3 separate regions of the Homo sapiens genome follow, and all the other regions are linked to region 2. The links come from fine-mapping of genetic effects on gene expression. A gene starts in region 2. Each other region holds a variant in brackets. All regions are shown on one strand. Distances are from middle to middle.

Region 1 (2,714 bases), 120 kb before region 2:
CCATGGTGGGAGGCTGGACACAGGAGAGAGATGGCTGCTGAGAGATCCATGACCAGAGGCCTCAGGACTCTCTGCGGAGCTTTCTGAAATTTGATGACTTTAATGTAGTTTTTAGTTATTTTATTTTATTTTTTTTGAGACAGAGTCTTGCTCTGTCGCCCAGGCTGGAATGCAGCGGTGTGATCTCAGTTCACTGCAACCCCCGCCTCCCAGTTTCAAGCGATTCTCCTGCCTCAGCCTCCTGAGTAGCTGGGATTACAGGTGTGCACCACCACGCCCAGCTAATTTTTGTATGTTTAGTGGAGACGGGGTTTCACCATGTTGGCCAGGCTGGTCTCGAACTCCTGACCTCAAGTGATCCACCGCCTTGGCCTCCCAAAGTGCTGGGATTACAGGCGTGAGCCACTGCGCCCAGCCACTTTAGTGTAGTTTTGATGTCCTGTGATTTAAACCCTTTCTTTCTACCCAAGTCTTCATTGAAGTCTGTTACACATGCCAATGGGACGAGGGAGACATTGCTGCTGATGACATTCTGTGATGCCCGTGCAGCTTGCTGTATTTGGGATGGGGGGGCTATTTCTTACTAGTTTTAGATAGAAAAGCAAGCTTGTCCTGTAATGTGTCCTAGAGGCTGACAGGTTCATGAGTGCTTCCCCCACATTCCTTCAGGTGACTGGTTCTTCAGGAACTGTGAAGGTGGTGGTTGTGGACTCGGTCACTGCGGTGGTTTCCCCACTTCTGGGAGGTCAGCAGAGGGAAGGTGAGTGATGTGGCAGAGCCTGGGGCCAGTGGAATGTGACCTCGCCTCCCAGCTCTGGAGTCTGGTCTCTGGCCAGCCCCATCCCTGGTTCCCCACTGCCCTCCCTCTCTGCTTCTCCTCCTCCTGCAGGCTTGGCCTTGATGATGCAGCTGGCCCGAGAGCTGAAGACCCTGGCCCGGGACCTTGGCATGGCAGTGGTGGTGAGGAAGCAGGCTTGGCCAATGAACTTGATTTCTAGTTATTGCGAGCTCTTTATTTCCCTTAAATGTCAGCTTCTGAACCCCAAAGTGGCCCTTTAGGAAAGGGACATATCCCAGCTTCCCTGGGTCAGCTACAGCTTTGCACCATAAATAGCTAAGGGAATCAGGAATCGTCTTGTTGTTTTTTTGTTGTTTTGTTTTGTTTCTACATTTTTTCTTTTTAGTCAGGTTTATTGAGGTATAATTTACATAGAGTAACTTTCTCCTTGTTTGAAGTTTGACTAATGGATATAGTTGTATCCAGTCTTGTGACCCCACCAAAAGGTCCCCCAGGCCCAGGCAACCACTGATCTGTTTTCCATCCCAATAGTTTGGCCTTTTCCAGAGCTTCATATAAATGGATCTTTTTGCTATTGAAGTAACTTTTTCTGCTTATGAGGTAGTTTTTTTAAAGTCTGCATGCTTCTCATAGAAAGGATAGAAAATAAATATGATTCAAATTTGTCATCAATCTCCACATCCACAGAAACCATATTAATATTTTTACATATCTCCATACAATACTTTTTCTGCATATTTACTTATACTTTTAGCCAACTTTCTTTCTTTCTTTTTTTTTTCTTTTGAGATAGGGTTTCGCTCTGTTTCCCAGGCTGGAGTGCAGGGGCACAATCACAGCTCACTGCAGCTCGACCTTCCAGGCTCAAGCAATCCACCCGCCTCAGCCTCCCAAAGTGTTGGTATTACAGGTGTGAGCCCACACTTAACCAGCTTTCTAACTAAACTAACCTCATGAAAAAATAAAAAAAA[AT/T]AGGCCAGGTGCGCTGGTTTATGCGTGTAATCCCAGCACTTTGAGAAGCCAAGGCTGGTGGATCACTTGAGCCCAGGAGTTCGAGACTAGCCTGGGCAACATGGCAAAACCCCACCTCTACAAAAAATACAAAAACTAGGTGGCCTTGGTGGCAGGAGAATTGCTTGAGCCTGGGAGATCGAGGCTGCAGTGAGCTGTGATCATGCCACTGCACTCCAGCCTGGGCAACAGAGCAAAACCTCATCTCAAAAACAAACAAACCAAAACAACAACATAAAAAATACCATCTGAGTCCATTTCCTATGTTTTAAAATAGATTTTTTAGAAATGTAATTTTTAGCAGCTATATATTTTTTCCAGTTTCTTTTATTGTGGTAAAATACATGTAACATAAAATTTACTATCTTAACCACTTTAAGGTATACAGTTCGGTGGTGTTAAATACATTCATAACGCTGTACAACCATCACCACCATCCATCTCTATAACTCTTCACCTTGTAAAACTGAAACTCTGTACCCATTAAAAATAACTCATTTTCCCCTTCCCCAGCCCCTGACAACCACCATTCTACTTTCTGTATCTATGCTTTTTGACTACTCTAGGAACCTCATATACATGGAATCATATGGTATTTACTTTTTGTGACTGGAGTATTTCACTTAGCATAATGTCCAGAAGGTTCATCCACCTTGTAGCATGTGTCAGACTTTCCTTCCTTTTAAAGGCTGAGTGTCTGGGCGTGGTGGCCCACACTTGTAATCCCAGCACTTTGGGAGGCTGAGGCTGGCGGACTGCATGAGCTCAAGAGTTTGAGACCAGCCTGGAAAGCATGGTGACATGTGCCCCATCGCCTTCTGGTTCGGGTCAAACCTGAGGCATCGAGATTTAGTGGAAAGAGCGGGGCACAAGTCAGGAGGCCCAGGTTCTAGTTCCAGACCTG
Region 2 (2,762 bases):
AACCTTGATGGGTTTCTTACCTCTGTTCCTGAGCTTCCTTATCTGTAAAATGTGGCTAATTATGGGGCCTAACTTAAAGAGCTGTTCTAAGAGTAAAACCCTTAAAACAGTTGGGCACACAGCAAGAGCTCTCATTAACGTCAGCTCCTATTATGATCGGTGACGTCGTTATCTTTCAAGAAGAGGCTTCCGATGTGCAATTAACCTGTTTATCATTCAGCAACTTGAATCAGAGAATGCTGAAGTCACTGGGCAGCAAGACTCACAGGAACTCATAAATCAATCCAAATGGAAAAAGATTATATCAGCATCTTCTTATATTCATGTTTTCTAAAGCATTTTATAGTCCTAGTTTTAAGTATACTGGAATTATGTTCAGTCTGCACACGCTGTGAAGCAAAATTGCTGTCACGTTATAATAAAAAGCAGGCTTTGCTTACTGTAGTGCAACATGATGTGAAGGAAAGCTGGTGGACCTGGAATAAGGGATGGGAGTGCAAGTCTGACTGTACAGTTTACTGACTGTTACCTCGGAGAAAACTCTTAATTTATCTGCATCTGTTTTCTTATTTCTAAAGCAGGGTAAATAATACCTACCTCACAGGGTAGTTGGGAAAATTACAAGGAATCCATGAATGCGCTGGTTGTGGGGGAGGGAGGCTGTTCTGAGCTCTCTAAAAATGTATACAAAATGTACATTCGATAAAAATGCACGGTTTTTTGGAGGAGGTCTATCACTTTCGTGATATTCACAAAGGGCTATATAACTCCCAAAGTTTAAGAACCACAGAGGTGAGGTAAGTGGAAGTACGGCAGACCCATAAAAGGAGGTCAGAACAAGTGAGTTTCAACACTTTTCCTAGAAGATCAATTTACAGAGCAACCTCTAGGGCCCCAATAATGAAAGGAGTGGACTTGAGGGAGGCTCGGGAGGCGCTGGGCCACGAGGAGGCACAATGCAGCTTTGAGGAAACCCGTCTGTCCCTCGTTCCGCACCCTCACAACTGCCGCAGCCCAGGGGCCCGAGAAGGAAATCGCTGAGGCCTGGCCGCCGCCGCTTTTCTCGAAGGGCTTCCCGCGCCGCTGTCGGAGAGTGGCGGGGACAGTGGGGTCGGCGGCGTAGGCCGCGACCCCCGGCGAGGCAGAAAGGAGCGCTCCTCCACCGGGTCCGGGACGCAGGCGGGAAGTGATCAAGGCTCCCTGAGTCCCACCCGAGCGCTCCCGGTTCAGCGCAGGAGGACGCACGCCGGGCCAGGGTACGAGAAGGCCCCGTGGGTTCCACAGGGAACACAGCCCGGGCGCCGGCCTCCCCGCCTCACGCGGCCCCGTGGGGGTCCCGGGGAGCCGCGAGCCTCCCCCTGGGCTCCCGGGAGGGCCGCCACGTCACGGAGGGTGTGCCCCGGGGCTCCGCAGGCGGGCGGGGGAGGAGCCGGGGGGCTGGCTCCCCGGCCGCGCCGAGCTCCTCGCCCCGGGCCCGCTGCCTTCCCCACGCCGGGCCCCGCCGCGCCGTGCCGCGCCGCGTAGCCCCTCACCTGCCTCTCCGGCTCCGGCGCTCACCGTAGGCCTCGGAACTTGCTCATTACAGGCCGCGGGCAGCCCACGACGGTTGGAGCGCCTGTCTCTTTAAATCCGGGTCCTAGAGCGGGAGGCAGCGCGCAGGCGCAAGAGCCAAGGCCGCGGCCACGCGACCGGTCCCCGCCCCCGTCTGCCACGTGGGTCGTAGTTGCATTCTGCCTGCCCTGTGATGTTTGGGAGTAGTTTTCAACCTGCAATCGCGGCCCGGGAAGCGGAGGTGGGGGGACGTGGCGGCTCCTCGGAACGCAGCCTGGCCTGAACTTCCGAGGCTCCCCTTGATTTTCTCATACTGTTAGAGAGGATCTGTTTTTAAAGATATTGGTGGAGAAACTATATTGTAATGAGGTCGGGGAAGGCAAAGATCGCGTCAATCTATTTTTTAAATATAATCCCTCTGTTTGTGTCCCGCAGACTCCCTAGTAAATAGTTTGTATTCAGTAGCTTTCATGGAATTGAGACGAGGCACTAAACAGCAGATAGATATAAAATGTAAAGGAGTGATGGAGGAGAAACTCCTTGATTGTATATCATTCAAAGTGTATTATCTCAAATCTGAAGCCAGCTCTTTGAGAGTTGGGATGGCGATTTTTACAAATGTAGCAGCCTGAGGGTAAGTGACCTCTTCAGAGTCTAGGAAGAGCAAACAACTGGGCCTTGTTAGGTAAGCAAAGAACAGGTTCCCGAGAGAATTCTGTGCTGTGTGATGAAGAGTGTCGTCTTTACTCTGTAGAGGACGGAGAGCCATGAAGAGTCTTAGGGAATACTGCTGAAGCTGGGTGGGGAGAGACTGAGGCAAGGGAACAAATCAGAAGGCTCTCATAGTGACCCATGTGGGAGATGATTCAGCTAGTTAGGGTGGAGAGTAAAGTGCGTTTTTGAAGATCATTTAGAATTTAAATGATCTTCTAGATAAAGTGCTCGTTTATGGATAAAATAATAATAATTTGAGTGAGCAGAAACATAATGGTACCATCAACTGAAATAGAAAATAGAGAGGAAGAGGAGGTGTTAGGGTTAGAAAGATGAGTTTTGTATTGGATACATTAAGTTTGTTTGACTAAGTTTAACTGCGATTCTACTGTTTGGAGGGGAGTAAAGCCTGCTTTTAATGCGCAGCAGAATGAACCAGGGCTTTGGTTCAACCAGGCAATTGGAAGGTCGCTGGAGACTCACGTCCTAGCTATGAT
Region 3 (2,762 bases), 49 kb before region 2:
CTCTACTAAAAATACAAAAATTAGCCAGGCATGGTAGCAGGCGCCTGTAATCCCAGCTACTCGGGAGGCTGAGGCAGGAAAATCACTTGAACCTGGGAGGCAGAGGTTGCAGTGAGCTGAGATCATGCCACTGCACTCCAGCCTGGGCGACAGAAGGAGACTCCATCCCAAAAAAAAGTTAGTGAATTGCCTACAACCTTGTCCTCTTTGCAGGGGACAAGCCCAGAAAGCCAGATGGTAATTGTTGTGAAATCTGTAGGTTTATTAGGTTTATTTTGTACCTTTGCCTTCCCAGAAAAATTGTAGTTAAAAGCATTGTTATAATGTGGATAACAACAACTAATGTTTATATAGTGCTTTATAGCATACAGACTGTCCAGAGGAGAAAAATGAAGTACAGAAAGTCTATTACTTGTTAGAGGGAGGTAACACAGCCCTTAAGTAAGTAGAGCAGGACTTAGGACTGAGGCCTTCTTATTCCAGATTCTATATTCTTTTTATTATTACATACTGTCTCAGATTTGTCTGTCAACGTGTGATTTAAAGAATTACAAAATTTGGCTGGGCATGGTGGCTCACAACTGTAATGCCAGCACTTTGGGAGGCCAAGGCAGGTGGATCACTTGAGGTCAGGAGTTTGAGACCAGCCTGGGCAATATGACAAAACCCAGTCTCTACTAAAAATACAAAAATTGGCTGGGCATGGTGGTTCACGCCTGTAATCCCAGCACTTTGGGAGGCTGAGGTGGGCAGATCATGAGGTCAGGAGATTTGCCCATCCTGGCTAACATGGTGAAACCCCATCTCTACTAAAAATACAAAAAACACACACAAAAAAATGCTCACCATCACTGGCCATCAGAGAAATGCAAATCAAAACCACAATGAGATACCATCTCACACCAGTTAGAATGGCAATCATTAAAAAGTCAGGAAACAACAGGTGCTGGAGAGGATGTGGAGAAATAGGAACACTTTTACACTGTTGGTGGGACTGTAAACTAGTTCAACCATTGTGGAAGTCAGTGTGGCAATTCCTCAGGGATCTAGAACTAGAAATACCATTTGACCCAGCCATCCCATTACTGGGTATATACCCAAAGGACTATAAATCATGCTGCTATAAAGACACATGCACACGTATGTTTATTGCGGCACTATTCACAATAGCAAAGACTTGGAACCAACCCAGATGTCCAACAATGATAGACTGGATTAAGAAAATGTGGCACATATACACCATGGAATACTATGCAGCCATAAAAAATGATGAGTTCATGTCCTTTGTAGGGACATGGATGAAATTGGAAATCATCATTCTCAGTAAACTATTGCAAGGACAAAAAACCAAACACCGCATGTTCTCGCTCATAGGTGGGAATTGAACAATGAGAACACATGGACA[C/T]AGGAAGGGGAACATCATACTCTGGGGACTGTCGTGGCGTTGGGGGAGGGGGGAGGGATAGCATTAGGAGATATACCTAATGCTAAATAACGAGTTAATGGGTGCAGCACACCAGCATGGCACATATATACATATGTAACTAACCTGCACGCTGTGCACATGTACCCTAAAACTTAAAGTATAATAATAAAAAAAAATAAAAAATTAGCCAGGTGTGGTGGGCGCCTGTAGTCCCAGCTACTTGGGAGGCTGAGGCAGGAGAATGGTGTGAACCCGGGAGGCGGAGCTTGCAGTGAGCTGAGATCATGCCACTGCACTCCAGCCTGGGCGACAGGGCAAGACTCCGTCTCAAAAAAAAAAAAAAAAAGAAAGCAAAAATTAGCTGGGCATGATGACAGCTGCCTGTAATCCCAGCTACTCAGGAAGCTGAGGCAGGAGAATCACTTAAACCTGGGAGGCGGCGGTTTCAGTGAGCCGAGATCATGCTACTCCACTCCAGCCTGGGTGACAGAGTGAGACCCCTGTCTCAAAAAAAAAAAAAAAAAAAACTACAAAATATTTCAGAGGGCTATTCCTCCTCTGTTGTCCCCATTTCTCTTGGCAGCAAAGAACTCATTTACTTTATCATACACACACTCTGTGAAGAACTCTTTACTTCATTATTCCATGTGAACTGTTAATTGCAAGTAAAGGCAGATTACTTGCAATTCTTATTCTAGGAACTTAAGTTCCTGGGAACTAAGTTCCTCTCCTGGGAACTTAGAACCCTCAGACAGGTTATATTGAGTCAGAGAGAAATGTTTCTGATGTGCTGAAGATTGAACAAATGTGTGATTAGTTAAGACTTAGATATTGTATATGATTAATTCATTTGCTAGTTCTTGTTGAGCTACCTGTCTAATTGGGCACTGTTAGACTATCACAATCCCTGTTGTCGTGGGGGTTACAGGCAAGTTACAGGCCAGTTGGGGAGACAGGTGTTAATCAGAGACCCCTGCAAGGGAGCGAATTATATCACAGGTGCAGTGGAGGCAGTGTTGGAAAGCTAAAAAGGACCTAGAGAAGTGAAGAGGCCTGAGGTTATGAGCTATTTGACCTAGGAAGTTACTTCCCCTTGCTGGTTCTCATTCTTTTTTCCTCGATGAAATAACCCAGGTTGAATCAGTTGGCTTCTTAGTTCCTTCTAGCTTATGAAAGTGCCCTTGTTAAAACAATGAGTCAGGAGACAGCAGAGCATTCTATTGTGTGAACTGATTATCAAATAATAACACTAAATGTTTCATTTATTGTCTCTGTAAGCAAAGAGTTCAGGCTCAAAGTATCTACATGGGCTGCTTTAGTCTACTGAGAAAAACAT

Which allele goes with the higher level. Alleles are on the strand shown, and positions count from the first base shown. SD is a standard deviation of normalised expression in the study named.
For the expression in monocytes after LPS of the gene that starts at base 1,643 in region 2, allele T in region 1 goes with a higher level than allele AT (moderate effect, 0.53 SD a copy in Fairfax 2014).
With allele C in place of T in region 3, the expression in subcutaneous fat of the gene that starts at base 1,643 in region 2 is higher (small effect, 0.40 SD a copy in GTEx).

Evidence for each region. PIP is the estimated chance that this variant, and not a neighbour inherited with it, causes the effect. A credible set is the group of variants that fine-mapping cannot tell apart.
Region 1: its variant is the best candidate, but not a certain one, in a credible set for the expression of LIG3 in monocytes after LPS (Fairfax 2014, PIP 0.62).
Region 3: its variant is the best candidate, but not a certain one, in a credible set for the expression of LIG3 in subcutaneous fat (GTEx, PIP 0.56).

The regions. Positions count from the first base shown.
Region 1 is chr17:35,101,500-35,104,213 of GRCh38, reverse strand. It overlaps RAD51D (RAD51 paralog D), which reads left to right. Exons shown (of 10, transcript NM_002878.4): 7 at 670-760; 8 at 890-960. RAD51L3-RFFL (RAD51L3-RFFL readthrough) reads left to right here. Exons shown (of 7, transcript NR_037714.1): 3 at 670-760; 4 at 890-960. Among named protein-coding and RNA genes, the nearest start is that of RAD51D, 17 kb to the left of the region's middle. The variant AT/T (reference allele first, on the strand shown) is at 1,771.
Region 2 is chr17:34,979,393-34,982,154 of GRCh38, reverse strand. LIG3 (DNA ligase 3) reads right to left here and starts at 1,643. Exons shown (of 20, transcript NM_013975.4): 1 at 1,533-1,643. RefSeq lists a silencer at 1,189-1,618.
Region 3 is chr17:35,028,532-35,031,293 of GRCh38, reverse strand. The region is part of intron 1 of RFFL (ring finger and FYVE like domain containing E3 ubiquitin protein ligase); the gene reads left to right. The region is part of intron 5 of RAD51L3-RFFL (RAD51L3-RFFL readthrough); the gene reads left to right. Among named protein-coding and RNA genes, the nearest start is that of RFFL, 34 kb to the left of the region's middle. RefSeq lists an enhancer at 2,635-2,684. The variant C/T (reference allele first, on the strand shown) is at 1,406.